Linked DNA regions of Homo sapiens: region 2 is linked to region 1. Evidence: fine-mapped expression QTL. Tissue or cell type: hippocampus. Region 1 holds a variant in brackets; the other region holds the start of a gene. All regions are shown on one strand. Distances are between the middles of the regions.

Evidence for each region. PIP is the estimated chance that this variant, and not a neighbour inherited with it, causes the effect.
Region 2: LRRC20 starts here. The variant in region 1 is fine-mapped to the expression of LRRC20 in hippocampus (GTEx, PIP 0.93).

The regions. Positions count from the first base shown.
Region 1 is chr10:70,350,581-70,358,685 of GRCh38, reverse strand. All of the region lies in intron 2 of LRRC20 (leucine rich repeat containing 20), which reads left to right. Among named protein-coding and RNA genes, the nearest start is that of LRRC20, 28 kb to the left of the region's middle. RefSeq lists enhancers at 2,811-3,020, 3,241-3,340. The variant A/G (reference allele first, on the strand shown) is at 3,889.
Region 2 is chr10:70,378,281-70,386,385 of GRCh38, reverse strand. LRRC20 (leucine rich repeat containing 20) reads left to right here and starts at 3,761. Exons shown (of 5, transcript NM_001278212.2): 1 at 3,761-3,837. RefSeq lists enhancers at 3,257-3,356, 3,887-4,086, 3,931-4,550 and a silencer at 3,487-3,856.

The sequences.
Region 1 (8,105 bases):
TTCTAGACTGCGGTAGCCAGTCAGCATGGTCGGTGAGCTTGAGGAGTGGCAGGTGGTTGAGGCCAGCCATGCCAGGCAGTGGTGTCTGTCTGGGGCAGACGTGGTGCACAAGGCACTGGTTGGCGACATTTGTTGCTGCTTCCTGGGTCCCATCAGTCATGCATCTGTGAGATCAGGAGGACAAACAACTGTTCTGAGAAGCCATTGCTTACAGGGGTGGATTCCTTGCTATATCAAGCCCTGAAAGATTGTCCGAGGAGGAGAAAGTTGCTGTAGAAATCTGGTCAGTTGGTAACTGCAGCCCTCTATCCCCAGGGTGCTGTGTCGGTTCAGCGGGTGTGGCTCTCGCAGCTTCCATCTGCTGCCCCCTCGCCCTCTGCCCTGCTCCAAGTGGATTGCGTTGTTTGGCATCTCATCACACCCGAAGATAACCTTGAGAGTAGTTTTGTGCATCCCACATTTGGAGAGACATAGGCTGTGTTCATTTCTGTGTTTCACAGATAGGGAGGTTGAGGCCCCATAAGTGACTTGCCCAAAGACACTGGGTTAAAGGCAGCAGCAGATCCGGGTTTCTGGACTTTCTCTGTAGGGCGATGTTCTCAAGAAGATGTCAAACTCTACCCTTTGCCTACTTAGTGTGTGGCTTTGAGCAAGTTCTTAACTTCTCTGGGCTTTTGTTTCCTTCTCTGCAAAAAGGGACTGATTGATGCTTTCCTTGCAGGAAGACCTCAGGGCCTGCCCAAGCCTCTCCAAGGTCTGGCTTGGCCACGTGGCCTCCTCCACTCGGACCAGCTGTGGTCCCTTTAGAGCCATTAGTGGCCATACTGTTAGTGTCATCCTGGCTGCTGTTTCTATTCCCTTTTGTATGTATACGTTTGTGATGAGTCATCAGTGAAATCAAAATAATTTAATGTCTCAAATTGTTGACTGTGTGTCATTTGATTGTATTCTGTGTGGGATTTACTTTTGATTTTAATTGAATATGGGCTTCTTTTCTCCTTACTGGCTTGCCAGGAAGGAGGGTTTTTTTTGGAAAGTCCCAGAGCCCATGATAGCACATGCGGTTGTCTCCTCGTCCAGGGCTTGTGAGAATAAATGCAATCCAGAGGTCATTTCTCTCCTCCAGGGATGACAGAGCTGAAGCACATCTTTGTCAGATTCTCAAATAAAAGTAATACTTTTGCATCCTCATAGCAGCATCTCTTACTTACTGAGCACAAACTACCTGCCAGGCACTGTGCTAAGAGCCTTGCAGACGTTTTATTTCATGCTCAGAACCACCTGTTCGTTGGATCCTGTTGTCCTCATTTCTTTTTGAGGTATATTCAAATACTGTAACGTTTACATTTTAAAATATACAATGCAGTATTTATTTGTATATTCACAAGATTGTATAACCATCACTGCTGTCTAATTCTAAGCCATTTTCATCACCCAAAAAAGAAACCCTGTACCATGCGGAGTCCTTTCCCATTTCCTGATCTCCGCCCAGCCCCAGGCCATTACCAGTCTACTTTCTGTCTCTATAGATTGCCTCTTCTGGACATTTTATGTAAATGGAATCATGCAACATTTGTCCTTTTGTGACTGGCTTCCTTCACATAGCAAAATGTTTTCAAGGTTCATTCATGTTGCAGCCCATGTCAGGATTTCATTCCTTTTTATGGCTGAATAATATTCCATTGAATGGATATATGACATGTCCTTTATCTGTTCATCAGCTGATGGACATTTGGATTGTCTCCACTTTTCAACTATTGTGAAAATGCTGCTGTGAACATTTATATACAGGTGTTTTTTTTTGTTTTGCTTTGTTTTTTGTTTTGTTTTGTTTTGAGGTGGAGTCTCATTCTGTTGCCCAGGCTGGAGTGCAGTGGCGCGATCTTGGCTCACTGCAACCTCCGCCTCCTGGGTTCAAGCAATTCTTCTGCCTCAGCCTCCTGAGTAGCTGTGACTACAGGCACCTGCCACCACACCCTGCTAATTTTTGTATTTTTAGTAGAGACGGGGTTTCACCATATTGGCCAGGCTGGTCTCAAACTCCTAACCTCGTGATCTGCCCGCCTCGGCCTCCCAAAGTGCTGGGATTACAGGTGTGAGCTACTCTGCCCAGCACTACATACAGGTTTTAAAACTTTATTTATTTGTTTTTATTTTTTTGAGACAAAGTCTCAAAAGGTCTGGCTCTGTTGCCCAGGCTGGGGTGCAGTGGCATGATCTTGGCTCACTGCAACCTCTGCCTCCCAAGCTCAAGCGATCCTCCCACCACAGCCTCCCAAGTAGCTAGCTGGGACTACAGGCATGCACTACCACACCCAGCTACTTTTTGTATTTTTTATAGAACCAGGGTTTTACTGTGTTGCCCAGGATGGTCTTGAACTCTTGAACTTAAGTGATCCTCCCACCTTGGCCTCCCAAAGTGCTTGGGTTACGGGCGTGAGCCACCATGCCCAGATTGCATACAGGTTTTTGAAAGAGCTCTTGTCCTCACTTTACTGAAGAAGAAACTGAGATTGGAGTTAAGTAACTTGCCTGAGGTCCCACAGCAAGAAAGAGTTGGCCCAAGAAAGGATTCAATTTGGATTCTGAGAAGAAGATATTGCTTTCTAGGTCTCTTGTGTGGTTAGAAGTTATTCTGACTGAGTATGATAGCCACTGGCTGGAGGGCCTCATGCTCAGCTTTCTTCTCTGAGGCCAACTCTCTGTAGCACATTATTTCCTAGAGAGGCAGGGGCTTCTGCAGCAGGACGTGAGAAGGCACCTCTGAGATGCAGGATTCGTGTGTGCGTTTGTCAGAGGGGTGTCCACACAGCCCTCTGAGCGTGCGGCTGCTCTCCCCAGCAGCTCCCGTGAGCTTTGCCCTGGCAGGACTTTAGCTCTGTTCCCTATGTCCCCATCAACACCCATCTCCACTGATCCAGGTTTTTGGGCGTTTGAGGAAAAACATACCCCAAGGGTCACTGCATGTTGGGGATGTTCCTTTCTTTAAACTGGAGATATTTGTAAGAAGTCATTAAGTGCTTGTAAAACTCTTGCACAATATACAAGTCCATGAAATAGGAAGTGAAAGAAAAAAATCCCCCTAAACCCACTGGCACTTTCAAGTTGAGTGGTTTCCCCACGTCTCAGAAGACGCGCCTTCCCGAAGTGCCTTTCTGCCCTTCTCTTCCCGACAACCCTCCCGGGCCCAGTAGCTGTGTGTGCTATTGCGGTGGGACTTTCTGGACGTATGTGGTCCTCGGTGAGCTCTTCCTCCCATGCCCTTTTCTCTATAAGGGGCATGAGACAGGAAACAGGCTCAGAAACATTGCTCTAGAGATCGGGAGTAAAACACCCCCAAAGACCTGAAAGTGGTTGTCCCTGGGGGAGGGGATTTGTCAAGAGGGAGCAAGTCCGGCTGCTTTTTGTCTTAAGCCTTTTAGAGCCAGCCAGCTCTGTAAGCACTACAACAAACAGCTTTGTTAAAGTGATGCCTAATTGTGCCCAGTGATGCACGGCACGATCCCTTGATGAGCAGTTGTTTTGCTCGCTGTCTGCATCCTGTGTGTCCCTACTTTGGAAATTGAGTGACATTTCAGAGACTGGCAGCTCAAGTCATGGGGGGCTCCTGTTTGACAGAGGGCTGTCTGAAGAGCCTTTGTTTAGTAGAATCATGGAGTCAGAGGATGTCTGGTCTGGTTGAGACCCCAAATCATCTAGTCCAAACCCTCATTTTACAGATGAGGGGACAAGGCCCATGAAGAAGTAGTGTCTCTGAGCTCCCCCTGGCTGATAGTGGAGGGGCTGGGATAAGAATTAGGCCTCCTGAGTTACAGCCCAGGGCGGCCTCCACACCGAGGGTCACGTGTGCCTCTGAGTACCAGAAGCATGAACAAAGCGAGAGAAGAG[A/G]GTGAAGAGACTCTGTCTCTGCTGCTCTGTCCTGAAATAGTCTGCTCAGAGGGGAAGCAGGAGGAACCCAGGGCACAAAAAATTTCCATGAGCGTGTAAACCTCATGCCCTTAGGCAGGCAGGAGCAGCCAGCACTCAGTTACTGTCATTACCACCCCATTATCATCATCAATACAGGAAGCAGCTACATCAGGAGGAGGCCTGGCCCCTCTAGGCCAGTGATGCTTCAGCTAAAACACAGATGCCTGGGCCTTACCCCCAGAGTTTCTGATTCTGTGGGACTGGGGTGGTGCCTGAGAATGTGCCTTTCTGACAAGTTCTGGGGTGATGCTAATGCTGTGGGTGATGCTGATGCCCTTGGAGAACCACTGCACTGGAGTAGCCCTTGCTACTTAGTGTGGTCCTTGGACCTGCTGGGTGGAAATGCAGACTCTTACGCCCCACCTAGACATGTGGCATCAGAATCTGCACGTTGGCAGTGTCCCCAGGTGTCACACTTTAGTTTGAGAGGTGATGGTATGGTGCAGAGTTCACCTGGCTGCACGTTAGAGTCACCCAGGGAGCTTTTACCCTCCCTTCCATTCCCAAGCCCCAGCCCCCACTAATTAAATCAGACTCTCTGGGAGAGAGACTTAGGCATCAAGAGTCTATAGAGCTCCCAAGGTGGCTCCTGGTTGTGGCCAAGTCCTAGAATCCACAGTGGCAGCTGCAAGGGGCCTTGGAGATGATCAGTTGCAATTTACCAAGATTTGAAAACTAAGGGCATAAGGACCCAAGGTCCCACAGACAGTAAGTGACAAATCCAGGCTGTTGATACCCTGATGACTCTTTCACCAGCTCTTTCAACTCTAAGTCCCCTTTTATATAGTTCCATGGGAACTGCAATATACTAGTGTTCCCAGGGAACCCATTGTAAATCATGGAAGATCTATCTGCTCATTGGAAACCCACCACCTCCCAATCTGTTTCAGCATGGCAGGCTGTCCTGAATGCGGGTTACATATTCTAGGGAGGCAGTGTAGCATGGTGGTTAGGAGCAAACCCTTAAGCTCAGCAGCTTACTAACCAAGACTCCTGGCTCTGTGTCTTGATTCCTCCTCTGTACAACAGGAATAGTAATAATAGTGCCCATCTCATGGATCATCTGAGGTCAGGAGTTCGAGACCAGCCTGGCCAACATGGTGAAACCCCTTCTCTACTAAAAATACAAAAATTAGTTGGGCGTGGTGGTGCATGCCTGTAGTCCCAGCTACTCAGGAGGCTGAGGCAGGAGACTCACTTGAACCCAGGAGGCGGAGGTTGCAGTGAGCCGAGATTACACCACTGCACTCCAGCCTGGGTGACAGAGTGAGACTCTGTCTCAAAAAAATAAAAAATACAAAATAGTGCCTGTCTCATGGGGATGTTGTGATGTTGTGGGGGTTAACTGAGTTAATGCATGACAAGCTGAGATCACTAATTGCAAGCAGCAGGCACTTTGTAAATGTTTTTTATTATTTCATTAACTGGTTGACCTTGAATAAGTCATATGACTTAGAACAATTTGTTTGACTTCTCCATGACTCAGTTTCCTTAACTGTTAACCAGGGGTAAGCATAGTAGTGACCTATTTATAGGGTGGTTGTGAGGAATGGAGGGAATAAAAGGTCTGAAGCCCCAGCACAGCTTCTGGAACACACCTGGTGTCAATCAGTGGTGGCTGCAGTTATGTGTTAGAGACTCAACACCGGTGCAGGAGAAAGTTCTGGCCAGGCCAGAGTCTGAGCTAGGTTGGTCCTGCTCCTCTCACGGGAGCAGCCAGAACCATGAGGATTGAAGTTTCTGGGGATGTTTTTGCCTGGAAAAAAGTTTATAATGTTCTGTGGTTGCCAGCAGCTGGGGGATGGGAAAATAGGGGGTTAACAAGTAAAGAGTTTCCGTTTCGCAAGATGCAAAAGTCCTGGAGATTAGTTGATTGCACAACAATGTAAATATACTTAAAGCTACTGAACTGTACATTTAAAAATGGTTAAGATGGCACATTTTAAAAAATATTTAATTTTTAAAGGGGAGTGTTAGGTTCACAAGGTTCACAAGCAAAATTAAGAGTTAAGAATAGAGATTTTCCAATATACTCCCCACTGCCCACAAACAGGCATTGCCTTCTCCATGATCAACATCCCCCACCAGAGGGGCATATTTACTACAATTGGTGAACCTACGTTGGTGCATCATTGTTACCCAAAGTCCATGGTTCACATTAGGGTTCACTCCTGGTGTTGTACAGCCTTAGGCTCAGATTAATGTATAATGACATGTGTCTGCCACATGTCACTTTCACCGCCTGAGAATCCTCTGTGCTCTGCCTGCTAATCCCTTGCCACTGATAAAATGCTACATTTTTTTTAGCAGTTTTTAAAAGGAGGATTTATTTGACAAGTTTCACTTAGCACAATATACCTAAAAGGAAGTCACACTACAATGAAAGATTTAAATCAAGGCCTCAGAATTTCATACAAACACCAAGGCCAAAATTCTAAAGTATTGGTATTGCGTTTCAGATTTTTCCCATTAACTTAAAAAAAAAAAAAGCTTAAACGTACATGCCTTACAAGTTATTAAGTGAAACTAGAATTAACAAACATGCCAAAATGTTTCTAGACACAGCTCCTACCTTGAGTTTTACAAAAAACAAAGCATGTCTTTCCACATGCATCCAGTGTTCAGTGTAATGTGGCAAAGGGCAACATTTAACATAATTCAACTTCTTTCACCTAAATATGCTTACTAAGTACACCCTATAATATAACTAACTTGAGAAAAGCTGGAACTTGCTCAACAGTTGTAGTTTACTCGGCTTCACTGTTACATCCTAGATGAGTATTGTGTTAAAAAATATTGAGCCTTAAGTCTTCATAACAATCCTGATTTCCACTAGAGAGTAAGCATAAATCACAAGCTTGTATTGCAGAAACTGTAAAGTTGACCAAGAGTCAGTGATTAGGATCGATCAATTACATTTCCCTCCACAACTCACACTGGACGTGTTAGACATCCCTCCCATTCCTCATGCCTATAGATGCATGGCTTCCATGATTCTAGTTGCTGCTATTCATTGCTCCTTGGCTACTTATGCAATGTTTGATTGAAAATCACGGGAGTTTTCCCGTAAAACTTGGTCATATCGCTCGCTAAATTTTTGTTATGTGTATTTTACAATAATTAAAAAGAAAATGTTTATAATGTCCTTTGTCATCATTTATGTGAAGGATTGCCATGCAGAAGAGAGGGCAGCAGGACTGGTGAGTGGTGAAGGGTGGCAGTTATTAATACAGTTCGTTAAAGAACTCTCTAACAATTAAACTCATTCTATGGAAGGAGGAGGGAGCCCTCCCATCACCAGTGTTCAAGGAGAACTCTATGACCTCAGATGGAGACATGGAGAGATTTCAGGCCTCAGATTGGAGGCTGTGTTACTCAGTGTTTCCCAAGTTTGCCTATTGATAAGAATCACCTGGGGATATTGTTAAAAACAAATTTCATGGCACCATCCCAGATTCACTGAAAGGTAGAATATCTGGGGGAGGATGAAAGGACCAGCCTCTTCAGATGATTGTCTCTTTTTTTTTTTTCTTTCTGAGACAGGGTCTCACTCTGTCACCTAGGCTGGAGTGCCATGGCACGATCTCGGCTCACTGCAGCCCTGACTTCCTAGGCTCAAGCAATCCTCCCACCTCAGCCTCCTGAGTAGCTGGGACTACAGGTGTGCACCACCATGACTGGCTAATTTTTTATTTTTCTAGAGACAGGGTCTCACTGTGTTGCCCAGGCTGGTCTCAAACTCCTTGGTTCAAGCAATCCTGCCTCAGTCTCCCAAAGTGCTAGGATTACAGGCATGAGCCACTGTGCCCAGCCTTCAGTTGATTCTAACTCAGAAGTTTGGCAAACGTCGGCCAAAGGACCCCCGGTCTCCTAACCCTGAGATTCCATGAAGAAAGCTTCTCAGTGGGAGTGGGTCACACTGGCCACAGAGTTCCTCCAGTAGCCTTGGGAGCCTTACTTCTTGGCTAGGTCACAAGCCCATGTGCCTACTGGCCTGAGTCCCTGACACCCTCGCCTCTGGGCCCTGTGACTTGGTTGGCAGGGAAGTCCTGCTCCATTTCCCACTCTTGGGCCCTGTCACCAGGCCCACTTCTCAGCAGGGGCTGGCAGGGGTCAAAGTTCTATATTTCTAAGTC
Region 2 (8,105 bases), 28 kb before region 1:
CCTTCTGAGAGCTGTGAGGGAAGGACCTGTACCAAGCCTTTCTCTTTAGCTTGTAGATGGCCATCTTCTCCCAGTGTCTCTTCACATGATCTTCCCTCTATGCATGTCTGCCTGTCTACCAATAACCACTTCTTATAAGGACACCAATCATATTGGATTAGGACCCACCCTAATGACTTCAATTTTAACTTGATTCCTTCTGTAAAGACGCTACCTCCAAGTGAGGCCACATTCTGAGGTACTAGGGGTTAGGACTACAACATATCTTTTTTTTTTTCTGGTGGATGTGGGGTGGGCGCACAAATTAACTAATTAGCAGGCCTAGAAGTTCTTTGATGAGAAGTAGACTCTATCAGGGTCTTCAGTCACAGGAGTTGAGATGCTGACTCTGTCAATGGGATACTGTCCCTTTTACAAGTGCCCTGAGAATTTATCCTGCCCAGTGGGGGTCAGACCCTTCAGGGAATAACCACAGAACAATTTTGTCTTAGCACAAGACTCTTCCTATCTGCAAGTAATTTGCAAGGATTTCAAACATCTCCGGAGGCTGTAGCCAAGCCCTGGCAAACATCCGAGTCTGTTCAGGGTGTACAGCTTCTGACTCAGGTGGCCAGGCTTGGACCACCTTGCTAAGGGGTCCAGGCCTCTAAAGATGCTCTGGATCTCCTCGGAGGAGACTATTTGTTTGGGGCCAGTTGAGCTTCTTCACCGAGAAGCCTCAGGGCCTTCCCTTGCACAGCCCTACCTCGCTGATTCCCTCACTGGCTGTTCTGAAACTGAAAATGGCCACGAACGGTGTGAGGCTTGTAGACCCTAACAGTGAGGGATAATATTTTGCCAATTGACTGCATTGAATGGAGTCAGTAAACATAGTGACTGAAAATCTTACCACTGTTGATAAGTATTTTCTGAGTACCCAATAGGTATTGTGAGAATACTTTTTTTTTTTTTGAGACCTGGTCTTCCTCCTGGGCTCTAGGGCTCAAGCTATCCTCCCACCTCGGCCTCCTGAGTAGCTGGGACTACAGGCCCAAGCCACCATGCCCGGCTACTTTTTGTATTTTTTGTAGAGATGGGGTTTCACCGTGTTGCCAGGCTGCTCTCGAACTCGTGAGCTCAAGTGATCCTCCCGCCTCAGCCTCCCAAAGTGCTGGGATTACAGGCGTGAGCCACAGAGCCCAGCCCAAGAATACTTATGGAGTCCTGTGACAGATTACAAAATTAGCCCCAACTCTCTGCTCATCCCTGTACTCATATTCTTTGCAATGTGACTTCGCTGCTTCTCCCATCAGGAGATGGAGTCTATTTCTTCACCCTCGAACCTGGGTTGGCCTTGCCATTTGGTTTAGTCGATACAACTGTGGAAGTGGACTAGTGCCGATTTTGAGCCTAGACTTTGAGAGACCTTGCACCATTCCACTCGTGCTCTCGGAGCCCTGCAGCTCCATGTGAACAAATTAGGCTAGCCTGTTAGTAGATGAGAGACATGCGACCTACTTGCCTCAGTTGGCAGCTAGCCACTTCCCAGAAGCAGAGCCTTCTGACTGCCTGGCGATGAACCCGGATGCATGAGGGAGTCCAGCTGAGACCAGAAGAACTGCCCAGCTAAGCCCAGCCTCAAATACTGACCCATAAAATCATGAACTAAATAAGTAGTTATTGTTTTAAGCCACAACTAAGTTTTGGGGTGTTTTATTATGCAGGAAACACTGATGGATACAAGCACTGAACATGCGTCAAGCTCTGGTATTTGCAATCAGGCAGACTCTCGGGAGTAAAGACTTGTGCAGAGATGATAGAATAATGGGTATAATGCACTAAGTGCTCTGGAGAAGCAAAAACAGTAGGAATAGAAGAGGTGGATTTGAGCTAGGGAGGGATCTTGTCTCTGTGGAGTTAGAGGGTCCAGGATGAACTGCCTGGGACAGGGGACTGTCTGAGGGAAAGTATGAATGTTGGAAACCCCAGGCTGGGGCCATCAGCCAGCAGTATATACTGAGCCCTTACCATGGGTACAGAAACACTGTACTGGCTGTCTCAAGTCTGCGTATGGACTAGCAGAGGAGAGAAGACATCCACGTGTAAAAGTTGGGTAGAAGTGTCATGCTGGTTTTCAGTGAAAACAGAAGTAGCTATGCCTGCTTTGTCCACAGTGGCAAGCAGCATCTCGGCTTGGGCAGAATGGGACTCTACCCATTAGTTATTTATATCTGGTACTTGCTATATATCTGGCAGGGATGTGGTGTTGATGGGTTGAGAGAGATCTCCATAGTTTTCCCTGGGAAGGCACAAGGGGTCAGAAAACATGGCTGCTTAAGTATCCACTTGACTGGTAACCCCTTGAGGGCAGGGTCTGTGTCTGATTCATGTCAGTATACCCCAAGACACAAGGCTTTGCATATACTAAGCAATCAGTTTCAAAAGACTTACTTTGGAGATATTTATCATCCTCTTCTCTTTATTCCTACTAACCTATTGTAGTTTTTTCCTAGGGCTGCTATAACAAATGGACATAAACTGGGTGGCAACAGAAATTTATTCACTTACAGCTCTGGAAGCTATTAAGTCCAAAATCAAGGTGTCTGGAGGGTTAGTTCCTTTTTGGAGGCTCTGAAGGAGGAATTATTCCCTGCCCGTTCCTAGCTTCTGGTCCCTGCTGGCAGTGCTTGGCACTCCTGGCCTTGGAAATGCATCAGCTGATCCCTGCCGCCATCACCACAGGTGGTTCTCCCTGTGCGTCTCTTCTGTGTCTCTTCTCTTACAACGACACCAGTCTCAGTGGATTAGGGGCCCGCCCTACTCCAGCATGACCTTAACTCATTACATCTGCAACGGCCCTACTTCCAAATAAGATCACATTCTGATGAACTTTAACATATTGTTGGGGGTGGAGAGGGCATAAGTAACCCTTAACATCCATCGAGGCCCAAGGGAATGTGTGTTCTTTGACTGCCTAGACCCCCTAGAGGCGGAATTAAATATTCTTTTTTTTTTCTTTGAGACAGAGTCTCACTCTGTCCACTCAGGTTGGAGTGCCCATCTCGGCTCACTGCAACCTCCGCCTCCCGGGTTCAAGCGATTCTCCTGCCTCAGCATCCCGAGTAGCTGCGGCTACAGGCGCCTGCCACCACGCCCGGCTAATTTTTGTATTTTTAGTAGAGACGGGGGTTTTGCCATGTTGGCCAGGCTGGTCTCGAACTCCCGACCTCAGGTGATCCGTCTACCTCGGCCTCCCAAAGTGCTGGGATTACAGGCGTGAGTCGCCGCGCCCCGCCCTCAAGTCATATTTTATAGATGAGAACATTAGGATTGGAGACGCAGGGCCGAGACACAGGGCCTTGCATATACTAAAAACCTCAATGGGCACCCGAAGTCATCATAGGAAAATTTCCCTATGCTCCATGTTCACGTGTTTCAAAGTATCCCTGATCTGGCTAATTCAACTCCATTCCCTCGAGAAAACCCAATCTGGAGCCCCGGTCCTAGAGATCCTGGGATGTACTGCGCGTCCCACTCTGTATCTCCGCCCCCTCAGGCGTTCTCCCTCTAGAAGCAGCACACAAAGCGGTTACTCCCTGCGGCCGGGAGCGCGCGGGCTGCCCTTCCGCGCGCCACCCCCGCGCGCGCCGCTCCCCCACTGATTGGCTGAGCGCATCCCGAGCCCAGCCTGCTCCCGCCGCGGCGCCGGTCCTGGCGCCGGGATTGGCGGAGTGGCCGCGCGCGCAGATCCCGCAGCCCCGCGCGCCCCGCCCCGCCGGCTCGGAACTCGCCTGGGGCGCCGCCGGCGGCGGAGGGAGCGTGACTGCGCTGCGCAGGGCGCTAGGAGGCATTGTCGCCGTAAGTGGAGCCAAAAGCGGCCCGGAGCGGGACCACACGCTTCTTGCCCCGCAAAGTAAATGTAGTCCGAGGTCAAGCGTTGCAGGGGCTGGGGGAGAGAGGGCGAGAAGTGTTCCGATTTTTGCAGCGTCCCCTCCCCTCCCCCAGGTCACCCGGTGGAAAAGAGCAGCGGTGCACCAGCGGAGGCTCTGGCGGTGCCAAGGGGCTCGGCATGCGCGGGCTCTTGCTTGCTCACTGCACCTGGACCCCGATGGTTCAGGGGAGTGGGTGCAGAGGTGCCAGGGAATAGGGAGCTCGGAGAACCGCTCCCAGGCGGGCCTCCATTCCTCGCGGGAGGCGCCCTTGCTTGGAGAGGCTGCTGTGCATTTCGTCCCCGAAGCGACACTTTCGGGGTTTGCTTCCGCTCTGGGGAGCTGCAGACGCCTGCTCCAGAGCGTGCCTCTCGGCCTCCGGGCAGCGTGGGAGCCCCGGGGCCTCTGCGATCACTACCATTCTTCCCTCTGCCAGCTTTATTCTCCCAGTCCCCGCCTGCCGGGCCAGCGGACGAGGTGCCATTGGCTGCAGGCACCGGGGGTGAGGCGGATCCTGGCACGCGGGGCTGGGGGACCCTTGCCTGGCTACCGCGCGTAGTGCTGGAGGCTCAGTCCGAGGATGCCTAGATGTTAGCGAGGGAGCACGCGCTGAGCTTCCCGAACCCCATGCCACAAAAACAAGGCGCCAGCAGGTCCCGCTCACGTCCCAGCGGGCTTCTTTCCCTGGGGTGGGGAAGTGGGTCAACTTCGTTCTGATCTGAAGGGGGGTTTGGGACTATTTGGGTCGCTCCTCACCTCCCCACCCGCTCCCCGGCTTGGCATGGTCCAGAGCCCGGGCTGGAGCCAGCGGTAGGGCCAGCTTGCACACATGGCTCCGGAGGCTCCGGTTGCCCATCCGAGCCCCTGCCAGGCTCTAACGTTCCCAACTGACAACACCAGTAACTAAATATAGGAGCAGATGGTGGGGACGGGCTGTCGCAGCGGCTCCTTTGCAGAGGTCTCCGGACTGCAGATAAGGTAGAGTTATTGATGGTAAGGGCTGGAGTCAGGGGGCCAGGTCAGGGTTTAAGCAAAAATCACCCCTCCCCCAGCCAGCCTGAGTCCAGGTGAAACCAGGTTATAGGGACAGGAGGGCTGTATTGCCAGCTCCCCCAAAGCAGGACAACGTTTTTGTCTGGCATTGAATTTATTACATCCAAACTTCCTCTCTACACCTGTTTGATTACCTACTGGTAATGCCTTGGTGTGGGAAACATGTAATGGTTCGCAAAGTCCTTTCCCAAAAGTTACATATCAGTTACTTCCCACAATAATCCGGTGAGGAAGGTGGTATTTCCATTTTACAAATGGGACTGCTCACAACACTGTTAACTTTGCAAAACTATGGATTAGGCTGCCTTCCTCAAAAAACTTCTCTTAGTTCGCTACACAGAAGCAGAGGACAGCCTTGTAAGAGGGCTGCAGTTCCCTTCCTCAGTAATCTGGGAGCCCATTGGCTCCCTGTCTCTCTCTCTCCTGAATCTCTTTGTGCACCTGCTGCTCACCCCTGTCCCTTCCCCCTGGCCATGCCATGTGCCTTCATGCCCCCCTAGGCCTGGCCCTGTAGCCTTACTACTATCAGGCTCATCCTGCCTCCCAGTGGGAAGCTTGTTCTAGCCCATACCCAGTCTCTGCCCCTTTACTCCCACAGTGGGGGCCTTATGGAAGGTGTCCAGGAGACGTTTGCTGGATTTAAACATTTCACCGGACCAGGATGCTCACTCTGAGGAATGGGGTTGAGGGTGTGTGGAGAGGGCCATGCTTTGAGGATGTAGGCAGTGTGAGTATGAGCTTCGACCCTGTGCTGAAGTGTCTCTGGGATTTGGAGTGCTTTCCCTGACATTTTCTAAGGCCTACCCTCTATTGCCTGGGACTGGCTGGGGCCAGTAGTGCCAGCTGGCTGGGGTGCCCCAAGCGGCGATCTGGCCCATGTGGGCTGATGGTGTCTGTTTCTGCCTTTTGGAACACTCTGTGACTCTCCACTACCACCATCCCTGCAGATGGCATTGACCAGGTACCCTGAGGAGCTCAGGCCTGTCAGCTGGACTTCATGAAACAATTCTTCCTTGTGGAGAAAGGGGCAGTTTTAGGTGAAGGGAGGATGGCTTCCTAGCTAGTTAATAAGCGTGGTGATTTTAAGCAGCGGGAACCTTTTGGGGGTCCCGAGCACATTTTTGCTGTACTCAGAGCATCCTCCATCCTCTGGCATAGAAGGAAGGGGCCCTTCTTCCTACTGAATTGCCCTGACACCTAGACTTTACATGTTGTTTCTGTTCCTGTACCTGTGTACACTCTGACCCACACAATAGGACGTCTGAACTTGCCACCAGTGGTGAAATTTTTAATCTGACTAGTTTTCATCAGTGGTCTAAGGCAAGGGTCCTCAACCCCTGGGCTGTGGATGGCATAGGTCCGTGGCTTGTGAGGAACCCGGCTGCACAGCAGGAGGTGAGCACCAGTAAGCATTACCGCCTGAACTCTGCGTCCTGTCAGACCAGCGGCCGCATTAGATTCTCCTAGGAGCCTGAACCCTATTGCGAACTGCGAATGCGATGGATCTAGGTTGTGTGCTCCTTATGGAGAATCTAATGCCTGATGATGTGAGGTGGAATAGTTTCATTCCTCTCCCACTACAGTGGGAAAAATTGTCTTCCAGGAAACCGAAAAGGATGGGGACCGCTGGTCTAAGGCACCACCTCCCCATCTGGTGGTAGCTAGTAGAATTGCAGGCATAGTGCCTGATTGAAAATATTCAGCCCAGGTGATCCCACCAGGCCTACCCCCTACCCTGGGCAGCTTGGTGGCTTCCCTTCCTTTCCCTCTCTGCTGTGAGGCCAGGATTGCTTCAGTGCTGTTCTTCAGAAAGCTCTTCCTCATCAGAATCGCAAGTCGGAGCTGCTTCCTGCATTTCTTTCTCCCTCTTCCTTCTTATCCCTCATACCTAGGAGATGCTCAGTAAATGTTTATGATTATTGATGATGAATTGGAGATGGAGAAAGGAGGGAGCATGGAATGGTGGGAAGAGTCCTAGGCTTGGACTTAGGATACCTGGGTTTTTTGTTTTCATCTAGCTGATTTGCCTCCCCTCTTGGGTCCTCAGCTTTCCCATTCATAAAGTGGTTAGAACAAGTCACCAAGATGCTAGCAACATGGCTATGATTTAGGCTTAGGGGTACGGTCTTCGAGGCAGCATGGTGAAGTTGTTGGGTCCAGTTTGCCACAGTCCTTTCTATTCCCTTCTGCCCTGCACTGGCTCGCCTTATGCAGATTGGCCACCTGGCACTATTAGGCATTTGGTTTTTGACCCTTCTCAATTTAGACAGTGTCTTAGATTTGTTGTAAGAGTCTCTTGACCTGTATTCAGATTGGAAACACAAATGATGTCTGTTGATCTTCACCATTAGGGGATACTAACTAAGCACCTGTGTTCAGTGTGTGGAGAGAAGCACAGTATAGGTCTATTCCCTGGCCCCAAGCTGCCCACAGGTCAATGGGGGAGACAAGTGTTGGTTTGTTGATTTATTTATTTTTGAGACAGAGCTTTGCTCTTGTCACCCAGGCTGGAGTGCAATGGGACGATCTCGGCTCACTGCAACCTCCGCCTCCTGGGTTCAAGCGATTCTCCTGCCTCAGCCTCCTGAGTAGCTGGGATTACAGGCATGTGCGACCATGCCTGGCTAATTTTTTTTTTTTTTTTTTTTTTTGAGCGCGAGGTTCACTCTTTGTTGCCCAGGCTGGAGTGCAATGACACAATCTCGGCTCACTGCAACCTCTGCCTCCTGGGTTCAAGTGATTCTCCTGCCTCAGCTTCCCGAGGCGCCCGCCACCACGCCCAGCTAATTTTTGTATTTTTAGTAGAGATGGAGTTTTACCACGTTGGCCAGGCTGGTCTTGCATTCCTGACCTTAGGTGATCTGCCCACCTCGGCCTTCCAAAGTGCTGGGATTACAGGTGTGAGCCACCATGCCCGACCATTTTTTTTTTTTTTTGTATTTTTAGTAGAGACGGAGTTTTACCATGTTGGTCAGGCTGGTTTCCAACTCCCGACCTCAAGTGATCCACCCGCCTAGGCCTCCTAAAGTGCTGGGATTACAGGCATGAGTCACTGCGCCCGGCTGACAAGTGTATATTTAAAAGCTCATAAATAATCCAGGTGACTTGTGCTAAGTCATTAAGTGCTACTGAAACTCAGAGGAA